Homo sapiens: one gene and its partners. The protein of the gene in region 6 purifies or fractionates together with the protein of the main gene of each other region. This does not show direct contact. Each region holds a gene or a part of one and is shown on either strand. Other genes may lie near its edges. The genes, in order: SFSWAP, CAPN5, KIF15, CAST, FRMD1, LRBA and RELT.

Evidence for each region.
Region 1: the proteins of LRBA (region 6) and SFSWAP fractionate together in Homo sapiens (co-fractionation; one large-scale study listed by BioGRID). This does not show direct contact.
Region 2: the proteins of LRBA (region 6) and CAPN5 purify together in Homo sapiens (co-immunoprecipitation; one large-scale study listed by IntAct). This does not show direct contact.
Region 3: the proteins of LRBA (region 6) and KIF15 fractionate together in Homo sapiens (co-fractionation; one large-scale study listed by BioGRID). This does not show direct contact.
Region 4: the proteins of LRBA (region 6) and CAST fractionate together in Homo sapiens (co-fractionation; one large-scale study listed by BioGRID). This does not show direct contact.
Region 5: the proteins of LRBA (region 6) and FRMD1 purify together in Homo sapiens (co-immunoprecipitation; one large-scale study listed by IntAct). This does not show direct contact.
Region 7: the proteins of LRBA (region 6) and RELT purify together in Homo sapiens (co-immunoprecipitation; one large-scale study listed by IntAct). This does not show direct contact.

What each region holds. Positions count from the first base shown.
Region 1 is NC_000012.12:131,749,090-131,752,589, reverse strand, and holds part of SFSWAP (splicing factor, suppressor of white-apricot homolog), read right to left. Parts: intron 1-3,500.
Region 2 is NC_000011.10:77,115,471-77,118,970, reverse strand, and holds part of CAPN5 (calpain-5), read right to left. Parts: coding exon 3,383-3,500; intron 2,746-3,382; coding exon 2,668-2,745; intron 815-2,667; coding exon 619-814; intron 1-618.
Region 3 is NC_000003.12:44,851,275-44,853,756, reverse strand, and holds the end of KIF15 (kinesin-like protein KIF15), read right to left. Parts: intron 1,971-2,482; coding exon 1,805-1,970; intron 1,550-1,804; coding exon 1,418-1,549; intron 1,085-1,417; coding exon 1,022-1,084; 3' UTR 501-1,021; downstream 1-500. UniProt on the Homo sapiens protein: Plus-end directed kinesin-like motor enzyme involved in mitotic spindle assembly.
Region 4 is NC_000005.10:96,668,876-96,672,375, forward strand, and holds part of CAST (calpastatin), read left to right. Parts: intron 1-3,500.
Region 5 is NC_000006.12:168,076,413-168,080,414, forward strand, and holds the start of FRMD1 (FERM domain-containing protein 1), read right to left. Parts: upstream 2,801-4,002; 5' UTR 2,683-2,800; coding exon 2,470-2,682; intron 1-2,469.
Region 6 is NC_000004.12:150,851,285-150,854,784, forward strand, and holds part of LRBA (lipopolysaccharide-responsive and beige-like anchor protein), read right to left. Parts: intron 1,660-3,500; coding exon 601-1,659; intron 1-600. UniProt on the Homo sapiens protein: Involved in coupling signal transduction and vesicle trafficking to enable polarized secretion and/or membrane deposition of immune effector molecules. Involved in phagophore growth during mitophagy by regulating ATG9A trafficking to mitochondria.
Region 7 is NC_000011.10:73,393,399-73,395,686, reverse strand, and holds part of RELT (tumor necrosis factor receptor superfamily member 19L isoform 1 precursor), read right to left. Parts: exon of another isoform or gene 2,082-2,288; coding exon of another isoform or gene 2,033-2,081; intron 1,875-2,032; coding exon of another isoform or gene 1,851-1,874; coding exon 1,770-1,850; intron 1,462-1,769; coding exon of another isoform or gene 1,452-1,461; coding exon 1,370-1,451; intron 1,211-1,369; coding exon 953-1,210; intron 601-952; coding exon 402-600; intron 244-401; coding exon 196-243; 3' UTR 1-195. UniProt on the Homo sapiens protein: May play a role in apoptosis. Induces activation of MAPK14/p38 and MAPK8/JNK MAPK cascades, when overexpressed. Involved in dental enamel formation.

The DNA of each region.
Region 1 (3,500 bases), on a different chromosome or scaffold from region 6:
GCCCCCGGCCCCAGCAACACAGGCTGTGCAGGAATTTATTCAGTAAATAAAAGTTCCCAGGGGCACTGAGGCTGTGTCTGGACCTTTCCATCACAGACAGTGATGTATGCCGTCTTGCCACCTATGCTGTGCACACAAGCAGGTATCTGTAGGGTAGAGGCACGCTGTCTTAACAATTAAAAATCCTGTACATTTATCCTTTTTGGGGTTAAATGTTCAGAACCACGAATCACAGAAGATTCAATGATTAATTACGAAATTTAATTTCCAGTCCTGTTGTAGATAAGCAAGTAGTTCTGACTACACAGAGATTTAATTTCCTCTTTATTAGGAGATGGCAAAAATATTTTTCGAATTAAGAACTTTTATCTTCACTTTCAATCAATTCACCTTAAAACAATAACATTGAAAAACAGTAAAAGCTTAACTATGGTTTCCAGTAATGTATGCTATGCAGAGAAAAATTTCAGAAGTACAACTTAGACTATCTTGACCTTTCCATCTTAGATTGGCGAGGCAGCATAATTCCTATGTGCTGTAGGCATATTCCCCAGCTGCTAATGACTTATTTAAATTAATTATACATGATGAACTCCTAAACCGTTGTTCTCTAGCTCCATGTTACACACCAACCACCATGACACAGAAACAGTAATACTCCAAATTTTCAAAATAAGATAAGTGGGTTCGATGTGCTCCACATTATCGTCAACACAGATATATCTGAGCAACATTTCTGAGAAAAGGCCGGGAGCAGGGGATGAGACCCTTGGATGTCAATGGGAGGCTGACAGCAGGGCAGGCACCGTCTCTGAGGCTCCTGCAGCGGCAGGTCCTGTCTTCACTGTCTCTGCAGCCTCTGCATTGAGCAGAGTATGTGCTGGACCAACGAACTGACCTGATGGTCCAACATAGGCTTCCTATCAAAATCAGGAATCCGAATATAAGCATGTGCTTCTGTAAGAGACAACGTCATCCCTGGAAGGGGGGAGCTGCTGCTTCCACCCACTCCCTGCTGGAGCCATCAGGCTACTATGTATGGATGCTTCCTCTCAGCCAGGGCGAAGCCAGCACTCCAGGGGAGAGAGTGCAGCCCAGTGTGTGCTTAGCTCTGGGGAGGGCCAGGCGGAACTGACCCCACTACCGACTGGCTACTGTCAGGTCTCCAGCCTCCCACCTCAGCAGGAAGGACGGAAACCCCATGTCCTGCTCTGGACAGTCAGTCTCACCCCTAAAAAGTGTCCAAACATGTTTTAAACTGGGGCCACAAAGGACGGGATCTGAATTCACAAAAACAAACAAAACAAAACGGTTTATAATTATTTCAACTAGTAGTACATATTATGCAGCTCCAACCTGATACCTGCATTCTTTATGTAACTGTGTAAAGTGCAATCACACTGGAACACAACAGAGATGAAGAAACTGTTTTCAAAGCTGAGCGCCATTCCTTTAAAGAACACGCAGACTGTTAGTCTATATGACCTTCCTGAGCCTTCCATCTTGTTAAATAAAAACGAAGTGTTAAAAAAAATAGCAGTGCCGGCAAAATGGCAGACTGCTCAGAGACTCATCCACTACAAATGTCAAAAATGTCAGCTAATTTGAAAAATTTAGGCTGGGTGCCATGGGTCACACCTATAATCCCAGCACTTTGGTAGGCTGAGGTGGGAGGATGCTTCAGGCCTGGGCAATACCATCAGACCCCATCTCCAAAAAATAAAATAAAATAAACTAGCTGGGCATGGTACACATCTACAGTCCCAGCTACTTGGGAGGCTGTGGCAGGAGGATGGCTTGAGCCCAGGAGTTTGGGGCTGCAGTGAGGTGTTGATGGCACCATTGTGCTCCAGCTTGGGTGATGGAGTGAGCCCCTGAGCTGAGCTCACAAAAAGAAAAAAAGGCTGCCTGTAGGTGTAAAAATGAAACAAATGCCCAAATCTGAAAACACTCCAGGGACATCCTAGCCTAGGTCCACAACTTGCTTCAGAGGCTCCACGCTAAAAACCACTCAGGCTGACAATGCTCTGGGCACACCCTTGACCCAGACCCAGGAGATTCTCACAGAGGAGAGCTGTGAAGCCGAGACACGCGCAGCCTCTGTGAGGCGGTCTGCTGCTAGCCACTGCTGCTGTCACCTCTTCCCCACACACACCTGTGATTCTCTCCAAGGTTTTAATCAAATTTGAAAATCATCCTGTCTCTCAAAAGGACTCCAAGAGAAATAAAGTATGTGTTGCTTGATGAGATGAAAACACTTCTCTGTCTGCCGACAGAGAATGTGGGACGTGTCCTATGGCACTGCCATGCTCGGAGGCAGCCCGGGAACCAACACCACAGTGGTTCATGAATTCCGCTACACCGTTCCTGGGTTGCTTCTCCCAGATTCTCACTTCATAGGGTGTCAGGGATGTGAAGATCTAAGGGAGGACGTCAGATCCATCCTTCCCCAGACACTGTGGCCCTGGTGGGAGGCAGGACGGGCACAAGTCATCTGGAGCAGCCCAGGGCCAGCCTCCCGAAGGGCTTCTGCCGCTTGCCCAGCCCACCCCTTGCCCTGGCTTCTGTTCCCCAGGTCTCTGTCCTTTGCACGGCCTCACAGGGTCTCTGCCTGCCATGAGGCCCCTATTCAGCTTATCTCCAGTGCCACCTCTTTCGGGAAGCCTCTGCCTCCTTGGCAGACTCAGGAGGCCTTTGCTCTGGGCTCGCGTGGGGACCCTGTAAACAACGCCCTATGGCAACTCCTGCGCCACTAGGACTGGTGTGCAGCTATGTTCCCAAGGACTCCATATCTCCAAATAGTGACCACAAAACCTTAGCCGCTCACACAGCTCCTGGCATGAGCAGGCCCTCAGTAAGTGTTTAATGAGTGAGTTCATGCCAGCTGGTGGCACGGCCTGGACTGCTTCTAAAATGCCTCAGTGCTAAAATATCCTGCAGTGACCATGAAGCTGCTTGACACGTGCCGCACACAATGGTGGCACCATACAGCTCACAGAACCCTTTAACTGGACTGAAGCCCTTTAAACTGACTACCAACTATAGGACACAGGGATTTTGTATACAGCCCCTTGTATGTTGTACACAGCAATTCTCGTGAACACTAAATTTTAAGAATTTCTGGACTAGTACAGGGTGACAACAGAAATAAAATCTACAAGCTGGGCTGTAGTCTACAAACTGAAGTCTGGGCTGGCAAAAGCCACATCAGCTTTACAATAACTGTGCCATTACTAGTCATGAACGGGGGAGGGCACAGTGTGCCAAGGGGCTCCTGCTGTCCTCAGGCTGCCACGACATGCCGGGATTCTCCTGGGCTTATAGCGAGGCTACTTCCCGACAACCCCACCATACACTGACAACACCGTGAAGTGGAAAATGCACAGAATCCACCTATAACCCACCGAACACCATGGCACAGCCTCACCTGCCTTAAATGTGCTCAGGGCACCTACAGTAGCTGACGGCTGGATGACATCATCTAACACGAAGCCTATTTT
Region 2 (3,500 bases), on a different chromosome or scaffold from region 6:
TGGCTGGCTCCCGGAAGCTCAGACTCCAGAGCCTGGACCAGTCACAGCACCTCTCTGCGCCTTGGTCCCTCTGCTGTGAGGTGGGCCTACCAATGCCTGCAATGGCTACCCTGCATGAAGGCTGGGGAAACTCAATGCCAGGGTGGCCACTCTGCACAGAGCCTGGCACACAGGTGGTGCTCAACAGAGGCACACCAAGCACCAGGGCTAAGCAGCGCCACGGGTCAGACTGAGGAGGCTGTGGGGAGAGGCCCCGTGGGGAAGCCCAGCCCAGCCAAGTTCCCAGAAGGGACAGAATTGTGCTGTTGTGGAAACAAGGGGCTGAGTCCCTGGCTCAGCCTCTAAGTGTCCCTGTAGCTCAGAACAAGACACCCAAATGTCCCTCAGAGCCGCGGTTTCCTCATTTTTACCATCTGCAGGTTAGATTGTGAGGCTGGGGGCTTCATGACCCCCAGATGGGACGGATGTGCCCATCTAACCCCCACTGTACAGACAGGTTTGCTGAGGCCCAAGGAAGGACAGGGATTACCCAAGGTCATGCAGGAGTCCCTGGCAGGACAGTGGCAAGGCACCCCGCAGCTGCTACAGGGCAGGGTGGGGGTTCCTGAGAACGCCCACCTGTGGGTTCTGGAAGAAGGTGTCCTTGTGGTTGATGCAGCCGCCACCGCGGTTCTGTCGCGGGTCCTCATGCAGCGTCCAGGCGCCATGCAGCCGGGCCTCCTCCCACGTCTTGTGGATGCTCAGGTGGGATGTGTTGATCACGCGGCACTTGATGATGTCCGTGAAGTACCGGCACACGTCCTCGAAGGTCATCCTGGATGTGGGGAGGGGCTGAGCAGGGTACCTCCCCCACACCTCCCCAGGCTCTTGGCCCCCCAGCCCAACAACCTAATATGTCCATATGGCCCAGAGGTGAGAGAACACAGCTGGCTTTGAGAGGGGAGCTAAGCCCACACAAGGGCACAGGCATGGCATTGCACAGACCCTTAACCTCTCTTTTGACCTGTTTCCTCACCTGTAAAATGAGGCTGAATCTAACAGCAGGTGCCCATCTCAGAGCTAGTGAAGGAATTAGGTAATGCAATCAAAGCAGGCAGTGCAACTTTCGGCTGACAGAGCACGCACTGGCAAACGCTGGCTGTTACTATTGTGAATGGTGTTAATAACTACTGTCTGCTGCCCTGTACAGTTTATAAAGCACATCTGCATCCAGGATCTTCCATGGCTGTTGAGAGGCCTGAGTAAGTGGATGGTGGGAACCCCATGGTGAGCCTGCTGCGGTGGCCAGGGTGTTGCTATGGTCACTGCACACTGTGAACGCCTCCAGGGAGCTGGTGGGGGCAGGGGGCAGTGAATTAACCGTGAACATGTAAGAGAAAGGCCTTTGGAAGAAACTCTTTCTAAAGGCAAGGAGCTCTGCCGTGTTTTTATCTGCTGACTCCTGAGCAAGACTGGCAAAGTGGCCTGGGTGGCCTCCTGCAGCAGCTGACCTGACACCTGCAGAAGGGTTCATCATTGGGTGCCAGGACCACTGCCATCTGCCCCCAGTCTGCCTGGGGGCCCTGACAGAATCCAGCACACACAGGATGCCAATACCCCTCCAGGAAGGGACTGAGTTTCCATATCAGGTTCTGCTGAAGGGTGACACTGAGCCTAGCCCACATTCAGGACTCATGCAGGCTGGATGAATGCAGGATGAACTTTTATTACTACTGGGGTTTTTCTTTTTGTTTTTGAAACAGGGTCTTGCTCTTTAGCCCAGGATGGAGTGCAGTGGTGCGATCATGGCTCACTATAAACTCAACCTCCTGGGCTCAAGCAATCCTCCCCTCTCAGCCTCTAGAGTAGCTGAGACTACAGGGGTACATCATCACACCCAGCTAATTTTTCATTTTTGTAGAGATGGGGTCCCACTATGCTGCCCAGGCTGGTCTCAAACTCCTGGACTCAAGCAATCCTTCTACCTTGACCTCCCAAAGTGCTGGGATTATAGACATGAGCCACTGTACCCAGCCAATTACTGGGCTCTTTAAGCTGAGCTGCTGTCATCTTCCCAGCTCACCCATGTACCTGCTTAGCTCCCTTCTCAAACACAGCTGTGTTCTCTCACCTCTGAGCCACGTCCTCTTCCTTGCCCACCAAGGCCTACTCTGTACCTCAAGTCTCAGCTTAGAAGCTAGTTCCTCTAGGAGCCTCTGCTACCTAATTTCAGAAATCAGGCTGCCAGAGGGCCCCTGGAGGCAGGCTGAGGGCAGGGCTTCCTGGAGAGGGGCTGGGCATAGCCCCAGTGCCCCTGGCCACACCATACTGCTGGTGCTGGACTGTGCTTCATGCCTCCTTACCCTTGCCGGGGAGATCCTGGTGGGCCCACCTCTTAGACGGCTCCCTGACCTGCATGCCAAAGGCTCGGTCTGGGTGCCACAGCGGCTCCAGGACCCCTCAGTTCGGCAGAGGGGACTGTGGGGATGAAAGGGCCTGGTACTGCCCAACTAATTTTACAGAGGAGGAAACAGGCTCTGAGATGGTGTGACTTGTCCAAGGCCACACAGCAAATTGATGATGGGGCATGCAGGAGAGGCCTGGCTCCTGACTCCCCACCTGGTGCTCCCCGCCAGGCCCGTGGGAAGCCCCCTCAGCCCCGGACGCCCAGGGCACATACACACTCACCAGAACTCACCGTCGTCCTGCACGGTCACACCCATCTTCTCCCGCTCACTCTTGCTCACTTTCTGCCACTCCTCCGAGCTGGGGTGTCAGGGCCGGGGAGGAGAAAGGGAGCTGTCTAAGAGGCAGCCCCACCAGAATCTGTCTGGCAAAGGCGAGGAGGCACGAGGGGCAGTCTTGCACCAGGCCTCCAGCGGCACGGTGTGGCCAGGGGCACTGAGGCCATGCCCAGCCCCTCTCCAGGAAGCCCTGCCTGTCTCCTCCCACAAGGGACCGTGAGCTGCCACCATGACAGGGGCTGGGAGGTCTGAAAGTAAAGCTGCAGACTGGGGGGAAGGGGGGTGCGACCCCCAGTGAAGAGGGCTCCTTCACTTAGCACCTGGGCTCCACTCCCATCTTGGCCTTACCAGGGCCATAAGCCAAGCACAGAGGAGTCCCCCATTTGCTCAGGGCTGTGGCCTCCCTCCCTGCTCCCCTCCCGCACCCACTCACCAAGCTGGTCTCTACACCCCTGATGGCCTCCAGCCCCAGGCCTTTCTTGTGCTCAATCCATCACCCCATACAACCACTGCAAAGTAATTCTCCCTTCTTCGTTCCTAGTGTCATCCTCCCCCAGATCCTTCAAGGCCCAGCCCCAGTGCCAACTCCTCCAAGAAGCCCACCCGTCCTTGTCCAAGCCCTCATGCCCTGTGCCTGCACCCCCATCCCCAGGCCTCACGTGTCACTCCAGGGCCCGTTCCACTCCCGCTCGCCCCAGGGGTTGCGCAGGCGGATCATGTCCAACTTCTCTGACTTGAAGAAGGCCAGTAGGCCGTGGCCCAGGCGCACCTTGCGCA
Region 3 (2,482 bases), on a different chromosome or scaffold from region 6:
TATAACTACACACCTAGGATGGCTGCAGTAAAAAACCTGACAATAACAAGTGTTGGTGAAAATGTGGAGAAATTGGAATACACTGTTGGTAGGAATGTAAAATGGTATACCTAAATGGTAAATTTGGAAAACAGGCAATGTCTTAAAAAGTAAAGACATGCTTTTCAGATAACCCAGTAATTCTACTCCTAGGCATGTGCTCAAGAGATATGAAATATATGTCCACACCATGACTTACACATGAACATTTATAGCTCCATTATTTATAATAGTCCTAAACTGGAAACAATTCAAGTATCCATCAGCTGTTGGATGGACAGTGTAGCATATCCATAAAATGGAATATTTGTCTCAATAAAAAAGAAAGAAGGCCCAATACACAGAAGTTCCTTGAGGGCAAGATTTGCTTTGTTCACTGATGATTAGTGCCTGGCATATTGCAGGTGTTCATTAAGTATGTGTTCAATGAACAACAGAATGAACAATGTAAGTCACTTTAATTATTATCTTAAAAAATGGCTTTATTTACAGTCATGGAAAATGCTCAAGAAAATACCTAAAGTAAGAATACAAAAATAATCTATATTAACAAGTTTGCTTCTTGTACCTGCTACTAAGTCAGTCATTAAACTCACTGCAGGTGTTGGAACCACCATATATTGTTAGAACTTCCATAAGAATCAAAGGAGATTATGGCATAATCTAAGAAGAAAATGATCTGGCTAATGTCCACTGTAAACCTTAGCTACAGGCTTTTATTTTTACAAAGACAAAAGGTTTTCCCTTAAGTTGATTCAAAGCCTTGAAGTAGGCCACTTAATAGCAGACTGCTGACTGTCACAGGGTGTATATGGATGCAGAATGTTCATCAGAAACTTGAGGTGGTTACCACCACCTTATAAACATTTAATAATTAAGGTCCATAAATTCAGCTCTCCTAAGTGGCCAGGAGTAGGTCTTACTTGTAAAAGAGAAGAAACATCTTCAAACAAGGTGATGCCTAGGTAGCTGACCGGAATCCTCAAGATTCACTTCTTTTCTTTTCTTTTAAAAATACATTTTCGGCACGCAACTTTTCTGTCTCCTAAGTAATTTTAAAAAAACAAAAAGAAAAAAAATAAGGCTCTAATTCTTACAGGAAGTGGTTTTTTTTTGCATTTATTAGGTGTATATTTCAAATTAAGACTGGAATTTTCAATGTGCAAACTAAACGTTAAACAAGAATCTGCTGTCTATGAAATGCCACTGATTGAATTAGGCTCAGAATAGCAACGACCAACTTTTTTTTTTTTTTTAATTCAGGAAGCTCCCTGAAGTAAGCAGTTAACTGATTCAATAATTAAGTTTTAATTTGGTTTCAATAAAATAATCATTTTTAAACCAGACAGAATTTATTCAGAATAATTTTTAGGTTTACCTCAGCAAGCCTGACATTTTCCTTCTTTAGTCGCACTACGTACTGAATCTTCTGATGCAAATTTTGGTGACCTACCAACTTTCCATTTTCCTCAGCAAGACACTCCACCTGCTTCCTTAACATTTCCATCTCCTGCAGGTAATCAATCCAAGGAGGGAAAAATGAGAAGTAGGTCTTAATTTTCTTTTAAAGTCACATTATTTCTTGCCTTCCAGGAGCACAGGAAGTCAGAGAGTCCAGAATCCCAGCTTTCAAGGCCTCACAACTCTTCATACAATAAAGCAACTCTGAACTAAGGACACCCAATCACAAAGTGAGTTTTACGCTAATTAGTTCTATTCATTTGAGTGTTCTAAGTATCATGAAAACACCAACACACTAGCACACCTGGGATGTTCTCTCTCTTTCTTCATACATTTCTTCCAGCTTTGATCTCAGTTGTTCTTTTTCCTGGAATGCTTTAGACTCCAAAGTTTGGGTTCGTTCGACTTCATCAGTCATTCTAAGGCATTCCATCTCTTTGTTGTAAAGGGCACTTTGGACTTCTTCTAGGCTGTAGGAATAGGTTATCACTTTATAGTATTTGAAAGAAACATAATCATAAAACAGTGCTCAAGTTAGACATGTGTACTGCAAGGCCAGAATTTTGATTTGAAAGTATTACTAATCTTTAGCCCTCCTCTGCTGATGGCAAAAGAAGACAGTAAGTGCTACATACCAGATATGCTTTTTTTGGTTTTGTTTTACCCAAGACTTTCATTTTGGAAAACTCCTCAAAACATTTTCTAAACAAAAAAAATTTAGAATAAAATTGTTTAGATTCAGCCCACTTGGGGCAAATGTAATTTAAGTATTATTATAATCTGCATGGTTTATTCAGTATCCCCTATCTTGATCATTTCTGATTTCAAAAACTGGTCCTCAGACAGTGGGACACCAGTCATTTCTTTCAATTCATTTCTTCAGTTGTTTAGAATTTATACACTTCATGTACATTTCACTGACTTTATAAAATGATCTGAATCCTGTAAGTTTCCCAAAACAAATGCCTACTTCACCCCCCAC
Region 4 (3,500 bases), on a different chromosome or scaffold from region 6:
AAGCTGCTACCATCCCTAGTCTAGAGGGACACAGGGAGGACAAGGGTCACCTTGCAGAAGCTGGAACCACAGCCAACCCATCCTGCAGGAGGTGCTACTGGAGGAGGGGGTGGGGCAAAGGGAATACCACCCACCCACCACCTCTAGTCTCCTGGCAGCGCCTGCTGTTGGCTAAACCCAACTTGAGGCCATCCATCAAGAGAATTGCAGCCAGCAAAGTTCCACTACAATTTGAACACAGCAGAAGTGGAACAAGGAATCCACCTGAAGGCAGACAGTTCTAGGATCTGCACCCAGGGAGACTGTTCTGAAGCAAAACCAGCTTTACAGAAGCTTTGGTCCATCTGCTTGTTTGCTGAATAATTTTGCTTTAGCAAGTAGAATACATATACAAATATATTTTAAGGCATTTTTGTGGGAAATACCAATTTGCACATTGTCTCTTAATTTTTCAAGCTACCTTCTTGGCCTCTTTCTCTTTTGTCTAGTTTACTGATCTGAAAAGAGCAAAATTACTTCTCAGGGAATGTTTATAGGTTTGTGGGAACATGGTCATTCAATCAAGAATTCTTTGTTATGGTCCTACCACACATCTAGGAAAAAAAGGATATAACTTACCCTGTGATTAGGAAGGCAAGATGTAAGTTTATAAAGTAATCAGTAAGCAAGAGAGTGTACAATAAAGTGCTAATTTGTTTGATTTACTGAGAAAATAGAGATTAATGTGCAAATATGAAAATATGATACTCCATTAATAGGGCAAAGCTCAGAATTTGACAGGAAACACTGGTGTAGACATAGGGCACTGTGCTGCTTCACTGACCAATCAGAGTTTACCCAGGAGGAGCCCAGAGCCACCCCAGTCTGCCTGACCCTGGGAACCTCCCCATGGGTGCCGACTCAGTGGGATGGTTTGAGGAGCGGAAACTTCCGCTTCCTATCATGGTGCCCATAAATCTTCCCCCAAAACCAGTGGTTCTCAATCCTGGCTGTATATTGGAATCATCTGGGGAACTTTAGAAAAATTTATCCATGGCAAGGCCCCATTCTATTCAAACTAAATCTAAATCCCTGTGCCCTGACACAAATGTTTCTAAAAGCTTCCCAGGTGCTTGTGACAGGCACTGAAGGATGGGACCCACTGCTAACCTGAAGTCTTTGTGATCCTCAGGAGCCCCTGGTAGAAGCCTTTCTCAGTGTGTGTGATGGTAGAGAGCTGAGTTCCATGAGCTCGGAGAGTCCAGAGGGTATCAAGATAACCTTTTATTGCTCCATGATTTTTCCACAGCTGTCCCTGGACATGCAAATACTATCTCGATGAAATTGTCGCCACATTGAAGAAGGAAAATGTTTAAGTTTTCAAATAAATCACCCACCAAGACATATGATACAATATGTTTTAGTATAGTCACAGGGTGGTCACAACCATCAGCACAATTTTACTTTAGAATGTTTTCCTTTCCTCCTAAAAGAAGCCTCATACTTTAAAAAATAATAATAATAAAGCAAAGGCATTTCAGAAGCACACTAGCATTTCATACTCTTTTCACAGCTGGACTTAATGCTGGCAAGGGCTGCTTTTCTGTCTTCTTGCTTCTTTTATATGTGAAGAAGTTTCTTTGATTTTTTTTTCTTTTTTTTGTGATGGAGTTTTGCTCGTTACTCAGGCTGGAGTGCAATGGCACGATCTCAGCTCGCTGCAACCTCCACCTCCTGGGTTCAAGTAATTCTCCTGCCTCAGCCTCCGGAGTAGCTGGGACTACAGGTGTGCACCACCATGCCCAGCTAATTTTTGTATTTTTAGTAGAGACAGGGTTTTACCATATTGGCCAGGCTGGTCTCGAACTCCTGATCTCCTGATCTGCCCACCTCGGCCTCCCAAAGTGTTGGGATTACAGGCGTGAGCCACTGTGCCCGGCCTAGTTTCTTTGATTTTTATCTTGTTTTGTGTGACATGTTCCCTTGGCTGTCTATGTATCTGTGTGTATCTGGGTAACAACAGGGCAGGTGCCCAAATGTGGCAGAGTTGAACCTTGCCCTGGCAGAAGCCCTTAGCTGGGTGAGAGCTCAGGCTCTGAGCCTTATTGCACTTAGCTCTTATTGATTTTTTTCAGATTTATGGGTTTGCTATGGCAGATTTTAAACGTATAGAGGCTGTCACCTAGAATGAGGACAAACGACAGTTGTAGTTGCCAACTATGTGATAAAGGGGGTGAAAACAGTTTGGAAAATTATTCCTTCTTGAGTTAAGATAGCAAAGCCCTTGATCTGATTTTTTTCTCTGGCTCTGAGCTTCTGGAGCACATACCACCTTCATCTTAGCCCCCATCTAGTCTCCTGTCTTCTATGGCCTTGTCCTTCCAGTGAAATTCTTTACTATGGCATCCTGTCCTGCTCTTCCTGTCTTTGGCCTCCTCTCTAGCTGCCAATACAGGACAGTATTGTGTGTTCAGTTCATTTATAAAACAAGTTTTAGAATAGGAAGTTTTCATGTTTTGTTATTTTTCGTGCCTTTTGTTTTGTTCTCATTTCAGATCACCCGCATGCTCTAAAGACTTTCTTGATGAAAATCCTAAGATCCTAGTTAGCTTTTAACTAGATCCAAAGTAGCCTAGTCTTTGGCCCATGTAATCCTGAGTGGTATCACCATGGAGAACATCGCTGTTCAGATCTTCAGTTGCTTTATTCATGAACCAAGGCGACAGTGGGTACTCCCTAGAGCTGCTATGGGTAGCAAAGAAGACCACATAGGAGATGCCTGGCACTGGGCCTAGCACAGAGCAGATGCTTAGGAGGTGTTAATTTCTTTTCTGTAATTAGTTTTGTGGTTCAGTTCTCTTTCCCCAGCTGTCAATCCTTCCCTGTTCCCTGCTCATCTCACTCTCCTCAACCCAGCAGTTACACGTAGTAGTGGTCAGCAGAGTTTTCTCTCTTCGCTCTTTAGAAAGACGCCTGCAGATTCCTGAGCTGGATCGAATTTGACATATGTCATTCCCAAGTATTTCATTCCATCCTCTCAGTTATGTGAAAAGTACTCAATTATTTCATGAATCTCTCTCAGTGAAAAGATACAATTGACTTTACATCATTAACAGACTGCTGAATATTGAATAATTTTCAATAAATGATCAGGGCAATGGTTAATTGATAAAGTTGTTATTTACTGGAAATACCTGTTAATTGTCTTAGGGTGATAATAGTATTGGGTATATAGCAATACCATTTGGGAAAATGTTCTCAAATTTAAGGAGATGCATGGTGAAAAGTTTAGGGTTAAAATTTCAGGATGTCTGTGATTTACTTTCCATTACAGGTATATAAAGACATGTAGTGCCCTCTTGTTCTCTCTCTCTGTCTCTCTCTCTCTCTCTCTTTCTGTGTCTGTATGTATGCCTGTGTGTGTGTATGCAAATAGGGCAAAATATGGCAACAATGTTAATAGTTGTTGAAATCTGAGCGGGGGGAATATGGGCATTCATTGTATTATTCTTTCAACTTTT
Region 5 (4,002 bases), on a different chromosome or scaffold from region 6:
TGAATTGTAGTTCTCATAATCTTCCTGTGCTGTGAGAGTGAGCCGGTGGGAGGTGACTGAATCACGGGGGTGGTTCCCCCATCCAGTTCTCATGATAGTGAGAGAGTTCTCATGAGATCTGATGGTTTTATAAGGCACTTCCCCCTTCGCTGGGCACTCATTCTCTCTCCTGCCACCCTGTGAAGAGGTGCCTTCTGCCATGACTGTAAGTTTCCTGAGGCCTCCCCAGCCATGTGGAACTGTGAGTCAATTAAACCTCTTTCCTTTATAAATTACCAAGTCTTGGGTATGTCTTTATTAGCAGCGTGAGAACAGACTAATATGATTATTGTCTGCTTAACTTGGTGAGGGGCAGGCCCCACAATGACGGTAACACAGATCTTCAGTGAGGGTCTTCCCAGCCCATCCCTTTCGAATAACTGGGCTTGACACATATTTGGTTGAATACAGGGTTCCTGTCTAACTGCAGACACAGGTGTGCACACACTCCAATAGAGCGTTCCCTGTCTAACTACAGATACACACGAGTATACACCCCAATAGAGGGTTCCTGTCCAACTGTAGATACGGATGCGTGCACACCCCAACAGAGGGTTCCTGTCCAACTGCAGACACAGATGCATGCACACCCCAACAGAGGGTTCCTCTCCTACTGCAGACTCAGATGCATGCACACCCCAACAGAGGGTTGCTGTCCTACTGCAGACAGAGATGTGTGCACACACCAACAGAGGGTTCCTCTCCTACTGCAGACACAGATGCATGCACATCTGATAGAGGGTTCCTCTCCTACTGCAGACACAGATGTGTGCACACCTCAATAGGGGGTTTCTGTCCAACTGCAGACACAGATGTGCACACACTCCGATGGGGGGGGGTTCTTGTCTAACTGCAGACATAGACGACTGCAAACCCCAATGAGGGGTTCCTGTCCAACTGCAGACACAGATGTGCACACACCCTGTGGGGGGGTTCCTGTCTAACTGCAGACATAGATGACTGCACAACCCAGTGAGGGGTTCCTGTCCAACTGCAGACACAGATGTGCACACACCCTGTGGGGGGGTTCCTGTCTAACTGCAGACATAGATGACTGCACAACCCAGTGAGGGGTTCCTGTCCAACTGCAGACACAGATGTGCGCACACCCCGATAGGAAGTGGCTCTGTGGTTGCCAACTTGCCAGGCCCAGCAGGGGCCACAGGAGTTGCAGAGGCACTTCAGGGAGCTCCGTCAAAAGCAGATGAGCACGATTCACCTGTTCAGAACAGGCGGTTCACTATGTTCTAGCTGCATGATCCCTCAGTTAAAATCTTACCGTGAAGTTCCGTGCAAGAAACCTAAAAGTTCCAGCTCTTATGGGGTAGGGGGCCAAAGCCCCAGCATCTTCCCCACAACAGGTCCTCTTATGACCCCTCCCCCAGCCCGAGGCACTGCTGGGGACCCCAGGAAACTACAGGACATCCCCCATTAGCTCAACTCCAGCTTCTCGTTGCTGGGTGGGGACACAGAGTCTTGGGGAAGATTTTGCCACAAACATAGATGTGGGCGTTTACGTAAACACAGAACTCTATCCCGAAGCAGACAAGAGACTCCCAGATTCCCAGGGGACTTGAACCAGGATATTACTAGCAAGTCATACTCCATTCCAGGTAGCAATGATACATTAGCTATGCAGAAAGTCATCGTTCTTCAACAAACCACTCTCATTTTAATTGCCACATTTTCATTATCCACATTAATCATTAAAATGAAAGTACCATCTCAACTCCTGTCGCCATGAACTCAACTAAAACAGGTAGACAAAATGGGGGAAAGGGAAAAGAAAAGGAAATAGAGAAGCATAGAGATGGTGACGTCTGAACACAAGACAGGAGCTGCTCCTTGGAAACCGGCTTCCTGGCGCTCTTCCCTCAGCGCTCCCTCCCGGGAAGGATGTGCTGAACCATAAACTTATTTCTCACAGCAACGTCTATCAGGGATGTTTCCTTCACAGGCCCAGTGAAAGGGCTGGCCCTTGACACCTCACAGACACCTGGCCTAAGCAGAGTGAGGCGGTCCAGGGACTTTCCATACACAGGCTGTGTCCTGAGGCTCTGCTCACCCCATACCCCTGCTCACCCCCACGGCCCTGCTCACCCCCACGGCTCTGCTCACCCTCACAGCCCTGCTCACCCCCACGGCTCTGCTCACCCTCACGGCCCTGCTCACCCCCACAGCCTTGCTCACCCCCACGGCCACCCAGGGCCCTGCTCACCCCCATGGCTCTGCTCACCCCCACAGCCCTGCTCACCCCTATGGCCACCCAGGGCCCTCCTCACCCCCATGGCTCTGTTTACTCCCAAGGCCATCCAGGGCCCTGCTCACCCCCACGGCCACCCAGGGCCCTGCTCACCCCCACGGCCACCCGGAGCCCTGCTCACCCCCACAGCTCTGTTTACCCCCACGGCCACCCAGGGCCCTGCTCACCCCCACGGCCAGCCGCAGTTGCTCCCGGCTGGGCAGCAGCACGAGGACATCCCTGTGTTCCGAGGCCATCGCGTCCATTCCCAGGGTCGGCTCCTGCTGACTGCATGCAGGCCTCTCAGGACTGGGTTCCATACATCGCGCCCCTGAAGGAGGGAACGTGTCAGGGTTTGTCCGGGCGGGGTCTATGCCCCTCCCTCTCGGGGGCACCGCCATGCTGTCGTTACTCGGCCCTCCCCCGCCATGGGTCGCAGGTGGGTGCTCAGCACCTCCCAGATCACAGCTGTGCTTTCCGGGACCCGCCCTTGCCGAGCTTCTCACTGGGAAGGGAATTGAGAGGGAAGCCTGGGCTGGGAATCCAGCATGGCCAAGCCAGGACAAGGGTCAGAGCTGCAAATAGCTGGGTGTGTGGAGGGCGCCAGGAATGCAAATAAACAACCTCAGGCTGGGCACCCGCCATGCAGCACTCCCATGCAGGGTAGCTCAGCAGCCAGCCTCGGTGTGGGCCCCGTGAGAACCAGGCTGGGGGAGACAGGACCCAACTCCTCCACCTGACAACCCCTATCTCCTCAGGGTGCCTGCTCCTTCTTCTATAATGTGGAGAGGGCTATGCAAACCCCATGGGCACAGATGCCAGAGCCAGGGCTGCTGGGGAAGATGGAGCAGCAGCAGGGCAGGACGAGGAGGGCGGGAGGAAGGCAGCCTGGGTGGGCACCCTGCCCCACACACCTCCTGTGGCATCTGTTATCGACCTCAGGAAGCAGCACAGCTGCCGTTCCTGGACAGGTTCTGCCAGGAGGGACCCTGGCTCCCTTTAGGGGCTGGAAACTGAGGACACTTCCTTCCTTGTCCAGGGCCAGCAAATCCCTTCCTGCCTGCAGCAGCTGGAAGGCCAGGAAGGGGGTCCTGGCTTGCGTGGACAGCAGCCGGGTGCATCAGCACGAGGGGTGGGGACATCTCCCGCAGGGCCTGGAACCCCTGAGGCCGCTCAGCAGAGATGAGCAACGCCTTCGAGCTCTTTGGCACAGTGTTAGGTGGGGAAGGGACCCCAGGATCCTGCCTGGCCCTGGGACCACCCAGACCTTTGGGCGCTGCAGGTCAGGAGAGGCAGTTCCCACGGGCCTGGGCTGTGGAATTCTGTCCTCAGCCGTGAGCTCCATCAGTTTCCTGCCATGGAGTCTGGGATGCTCTGGGACCTTCCTCTAGTAAGGGGTCTGGACCTCCGGACGGGCCGTTGTTCATCTTAGGAAATTCGCACTCCAGCCGCCTTAAGGCCTGGCCCGGTGGGTTTAGGAAATTCGCACTCCAGCCGCCCTAAGGCCCGGCCCGGTGGGTTGAGAAGATTTAGGAGGCTTAGGCCTCACCTCCCCCGGACCCTGGACTGACACTGGCTCCCTCCCTCCCTCCCTCCGCTCAGATCCAGACCCTTCCCAGACCCTCGAGGCCACACATGTGTGCCCAAGACAGCAGTGGCGGTCTCTTTTCTCTCCACAGCAAACGTAGAGCTGTTCACTATGGAAGATGTGGGGATCCCTT
Region 6 (3,500 bases):
AGATAACATAATGAAGAACCAACCAACAAAAACAAAAAAAAGGAGGGTGGGACAGAGGATAAGAATTGAATAAAGTGGAAAATGACAACATGCTACCAAGCACTGTCTCATGGGTCACTCTGAGATATGGACAGAGGAGAAGGCTGTGCCTCTAGATCTCACAAAGCCTCCTCTCTCTTATAGACTTCATAATACAATTTTAAATCACATGCTTAGTAACTAAAATTATACACTGGCAGGTAGGTAGCCCTAGAGTTTGTTGGAAAACTAATGTACTAGGATTGGGTTAGTCAAATAAAAGGTAAAATGCAAGTGTTTCCAATATTTGTTTTATAAACTAAAATTATACCAATCCTTCAAAGTGGTAACTTCTGGTGATACTATGGTAAAAATAGTAATAAAAACTGTCATTTAATGAACTCACATTAACTGCCAAACACTGTGCTAATGATCTGAAATACAATCTTCACATTCATTGCATTTATTTAGTTGTGAATAGCATGTGAACCAAATTCAAAATAAAATAAAATTTAAGTATATACACTTGCTCTTTTTTAACTCAGTGCAAAAGTACTTGAATAAGACAATATATAAAATCACCTCAAGCACATGTCGATGAGGTTGAGGTGCTTCCACGTTGGGACTGGCCTTCAACTCCAGCCTCTCAGTATCTGTAGCAACATTGGAAACATCCAACTTCGCAATCTTTTGCTCAGAAGAAGCCTCAGAGACACTACCATGACAATCATTAATTAATTTGGTTTCTCTAGTGAGGTTAGTTGCTTTCTTCCCTTCCTCCAGCATCTGACCAAGGTCTGATTCTACAGCTATTTGGGAAACAGTAGTTTCTGGTGACATAGCTGAAGACCCTGATGCTGTCATAGTCTGAATTCCAGAATCTTTAGAATCTTGAGTTTCAGTATCAGTTTGCTTTTCAGTAACAGGTTTTCCTTCTTGAAATATTAATTTGTCATCATTACCAAACATGTCCAGTTTTTCACCGGCTTCAGATGCAGCTGGAGACAAACTGTTATCTTGGAGCTCTGTGGGTAGATTAGCTTCCTCAGTAGGACTGCCTTCTACTTTCAGTTCCACATAATCATCATCTTCCTCTTCCTCTACTATAGATTTATCCAAGAATTCTGGCATCTCTGAGGCATCCTCTTCTGAAGGAGAACTTATAGAAGCAGTTACTTCACTGACAGTCATTGAATCTTTGCCAGTTGTTATAAAAGAATTAGAGGAAATAGCCACAGCTTCTATTATGTCAGAAGATACTTCTAAATCATCTGCATTCCTTGTCTCATTTGTCAGTGTTTCTTCCAAAGTGCCTTCATCTGGTAACTCCTGATTTTCTTGCTCAGCTTTCATTTCTTCATAAGATGTATTAGTAGTTTGCAGTTCAATATTAGATGCAGATTCTAGTGAACTTGTCTTCTCTATACTTGAATTTTCATTACCATTTGTGGTGAAATGAGGACAGACAGGAGAATCCTTCGTATCTGGTTGCTGGGATCCTACTGAAACATTAATATCCCTTCTAATGCCAGAGGCTGCTTGAACTGAAGTTGAAGAACACAGCCCTATTTCTTCATCAACTTTTCCTTGCTGTTCCCTAAATATATTGGCAAGGTTTTCTTTGTGTATTTCAAAAGTGACCTAGGTGAAAAATGTACAATCAGTTAAAATATGCATGAGAAATGAAGACAGAATACAAAATATAAAACTAAATAATTTTCAAATACATAGTTTATATAATACAATAAAACTTAATTTTCCTATATTTTATTTTAGTAGAATGATAAATGTAAGTCAATCACAGAAATCTAAATATTCATTAAAAACTACAGCCAATTTTAATGTTAACAAGTAACACAGCATGAAACCACAAGAAGAACATAATTATTTAGCCTATTATTAAACATGTATAGGAAAAGGATACACTATTCTACTGGCCACCATAACTTGTACCAGAATTTAAGTATGTACCATTGGGAAGTGCTTTATGCACTGGATAACACTTGTTTCAACCGCTATGAATACCAATTTCCCCAGGACTTGTCCGCAGGAGAGATTAAAAATATCAATTAATTATGCTCACCATTACAGTAGCTCTACAGATATCTATTAAGCTACAAAACCATTATCTCACTAAGCCAATGAATACAAATTCTTTTAGCAATGGGAGAAAAAAGATCCAGCCCTTCCCCCAAAGGTTAACCATAATTTCCAAAGTTTGAACTGGTCGAAAATAGTCTGAATGTTTCAGTTGATCCATCCATACATCCATTCATTCCATTTATATCTGAGTGACTACAATATATTAGGCACCGTGAACATTCCTATATCATGCTTTGCCTTTTACCCAAATGGGAAAAAACTGAAAAAGTAAATTTTTTTTTAAAGAGAGTGCTGTACTTGTTAATGTCACAAGATTTAGAATTTTTAAAATCTAAGGATTATCTTATAGCCACCATCATATGATTTCCATTGGTGTTTCAATGGTAACCCCCATCACCCCTTGCAACAAAAATGCCAGAAAAACCTATAACACATGCAGAAAGTATTAGCCTAATTATAGTTTATTAATCCCAAAAGTGTTTGTTTCTGTAATCTACATTATTATATAGAGTAAACTGAACATTCATTCAATAAATCTTTATTGAGCCATAGTATAAGAGGATGATAGGACAATCAAGGAAGAAAAGCTGATTTTTTTATCCACAAAAATCAATAGGCCTTATTGAATCACAAGAGTATACACACAGATGAAAAGCAAACAAAAGTAAAAATGACTCTCAATGCAAAAATTTCCTTCTATCGACATTAACTCGCCTTTACTCATGACATATACAGAACATTCATGCCATGTGATATACCTAAAAATAAAAATGTTCAGGGAATGAATATTTTCCTGTGAATATTTGTATTTTTCCTAATTGTAACTATTTCCACATTGTAACTATGTTCTTAATTCTAAAACTTAGAAATCTTTTTATAATATTTCAACAATAAATGCATGTATTCCTCACTAAACAGTAAAATGACATAATCACATTAACAAAATATCAATTTCTTTTACATTCACAATGCCAATATTTTATTTGACATGGGTTCTGTATTTTAATTGACCAATTCCTCATATTCATTCAACAAAAATTTACTGAACATCGGTAGCAGGCCAGGCATTGTGTGATGAACACATTGTTCCTGACTTCATGGAGCTTATATTCTAAAGAAGGTGTCAGAAAATAAACACACGAATATGTAAGATAATGTCAAATAGTAATAAGAGCTTTGAAGGGAGGGGGAAGTACAGAGTGAAGAACTGTTCTGAAAGTCTAGGCGAGAAGGTGTATTTACTAGTGTAACTGCAGTAGGCCTCTCTGTTCTATTTGAACAAAGGCAAGAATAAAAGAGAGAGCAAGCCATGTAAAAAGAAAAGAGTTTCAGGCAGAGAAGAACAAATGCAAAGGCCTTGGAGCTGAAATAAGCTTGGT
Region 7 (2,288 bases), on a different chromosome or scaffold from region 6:
TGTACACAGTGCCCGCCGGCCACCTGCCTCCTCACTGGGGCAGACGCTCCCACCTCCAGGCCTTGGTCTTTGCTGTCTCGTCTGCTGGGCCATTGCTTCTCGGTCCTCACAGTCCCAGCTGCAGCTCCACCTCCTCCAGGAAGCCTTCGGAACCTCCCAGGGCAGGGCCGCAGTGTCCTTAGACTAGACCGCCCCTCAGATGACCAGGTTGCTCTCACTTAGCCGGACCACATAGCGGTTCTCCTGGTGGGCAGGGGTGAGGGGTCAGAGCTGAGTCAGGGGCTGGCTTCTGGCTCCAGGAAAGTGGCCCCTGCCTAGGGCCCGCTGCACTTCCACCCCTGCCCCGTCTTCGGTCAGGGTTGGCCCAGGTGCCAACAGATGCCTTTCTCCTTGACTCTCACCTCGGCCTTGTTCTCTGCTGGGGGCTTCAGCCACTTTGTACGGCTTCCGCCACTTCCTAGCAGGGCCTGCTGCTCAGGGGGGAGGCCAGGCTGTGGGGAGTCAGGGAGATCACCCCACGAGGGCCCAGCCTCCGTGATGGTCTTCACCTCAGACACCATTGAACTTGTCCGCTGCTCAGGAATTCGAGCCACGCGGAACCTGTGAGGAGAGTGGGGCAATCATCCCCGTTAGCGGGGATCCCGGGGCACAGAGAAGGCAGCACGTGCCCGGGGTCACACAGCAAGTTCATGGACCAGAGCCTTAGCCTGAGAGGCCCGGGTGCCATGGGGGCCAAGATGCTGCCCTAGGGATGCAAGGGCTCCATGTGAGACACAACATAACCGGAAAGTCCTGATCTCTCTGGCCGCCTCCACTGCCCAGAGAGGCCCAATAAGGGCAGGGCTCCCATTGAGCAGGGTGCTCAGGGCCCAAGCTGGGGCCCTGCCTCCCCCTCCCGGCCCCCAGGCTGTCACGTCTTTACCTGCCCCTGCTGCATCTGTGCCCATCTCACCTGCCCACAGACAAGATGGTGATCTCGCCCTGACGCCCTGCCTTGGCCCCGGCCTTGGGAACCCTGGTCGGGTTAGGCAGAAGGCTGGGAACAGGAGTAGTGGCGGCTACAGCCTCAGGGGACAGCAGCACCTCGGGCCACTTCTTCTGGCTACAGCGGGAGCAGCAGGGGCCAGAGAGCGAGGCCAGGCCCTGCACGGTGTGGAGATGGTGGCGGTGCGGGCAGATGTGTGGCACGTTCGGGGGCGCTGGCGGCAGCCTGCAGGGGGCACAGGCAGAAGTGGCCATAGGCCAGGCCAGGGGCAGGAGACCCCAGCAGGGAACAGGGTGACTTGAGGGAGACCCAAGTGGGAGATCCCCAGGAGGCAGGCTGGTTAATGTAGGTTTTGGCCCCGTTATCTCCCACCAGCCCACTCACTTGGACACAGGCCTGTGGCTCGTCTGCACCAGCTGTTTGCTGTGGTACTCTTTCAGCAGCTCCTCCAGGGCCGCAGCATTCTCTGTGGGTAGCTGCAGTCAGACCCTCACTGTGGCCATATGGGACACACCTCCCACCCCCTGCCCCAGCAGAGAACCCCCCACCTACCCTCCATACCACCACTCCCAGCCTGGGCTGTGCGCCTTTTCCTCCCACTTCATCAGGCAAGAATGGGAGGCAGAGGTGTGCACTCCTGGGTCAGAGAGCACCAGGCTGCTTGAGGCACCCTGGCAGGGAAGGCAGAGCAGGGCAAGACTCTGCCCACCGCGGCTGCCTCACAGGCTCCTGGAGGAAACCCTCCTCTCCTGGGCACTGGGATGGGGTCAGACCTTCTCCTCACCTTTCTTCTCTGTGATCAAGCGCACCAGGACCCCAATGGTGTCCTCATTGGCATCCTCAGTCCGGTAGGCAGGGTTGATTCCTGGGGAAGAGAAGGGCCCTGATCCTGGGGAAGAGGGGGAAGCCGCACTCCTGAGCTAAACCATGATCTGCCAGCAGAGGGCAACCCTGGCCTTCTTAAGGGCCCTGAGCATGTGCATTTAGGTGACAAGCCTCCCAGAGCCCTGCAAATGTGGGATCCAGGCTCAGAGAAGCCCATATCACCTTCATGATTCAACACCAGTGCTTCCTGCACCCAACAGCCCGGGTGCATAGAGGCTTCAGGGCCACGTGAACTCCAGTCATTGAATTGGGCGGGCGAGGGGGCGGTGCGTCAGCGTCTTCTGGGTCTGCACTGTCTCCTCCTCAGCCTCAAGGAGCTGTGGGCTGCCACCCTACCCAGAACTCCCCAAATCTACAGCAAACTGCTATTCCATGGCCTCTCTACTGTGCCCTATGTAACAATTTAACTGAGTGCCCC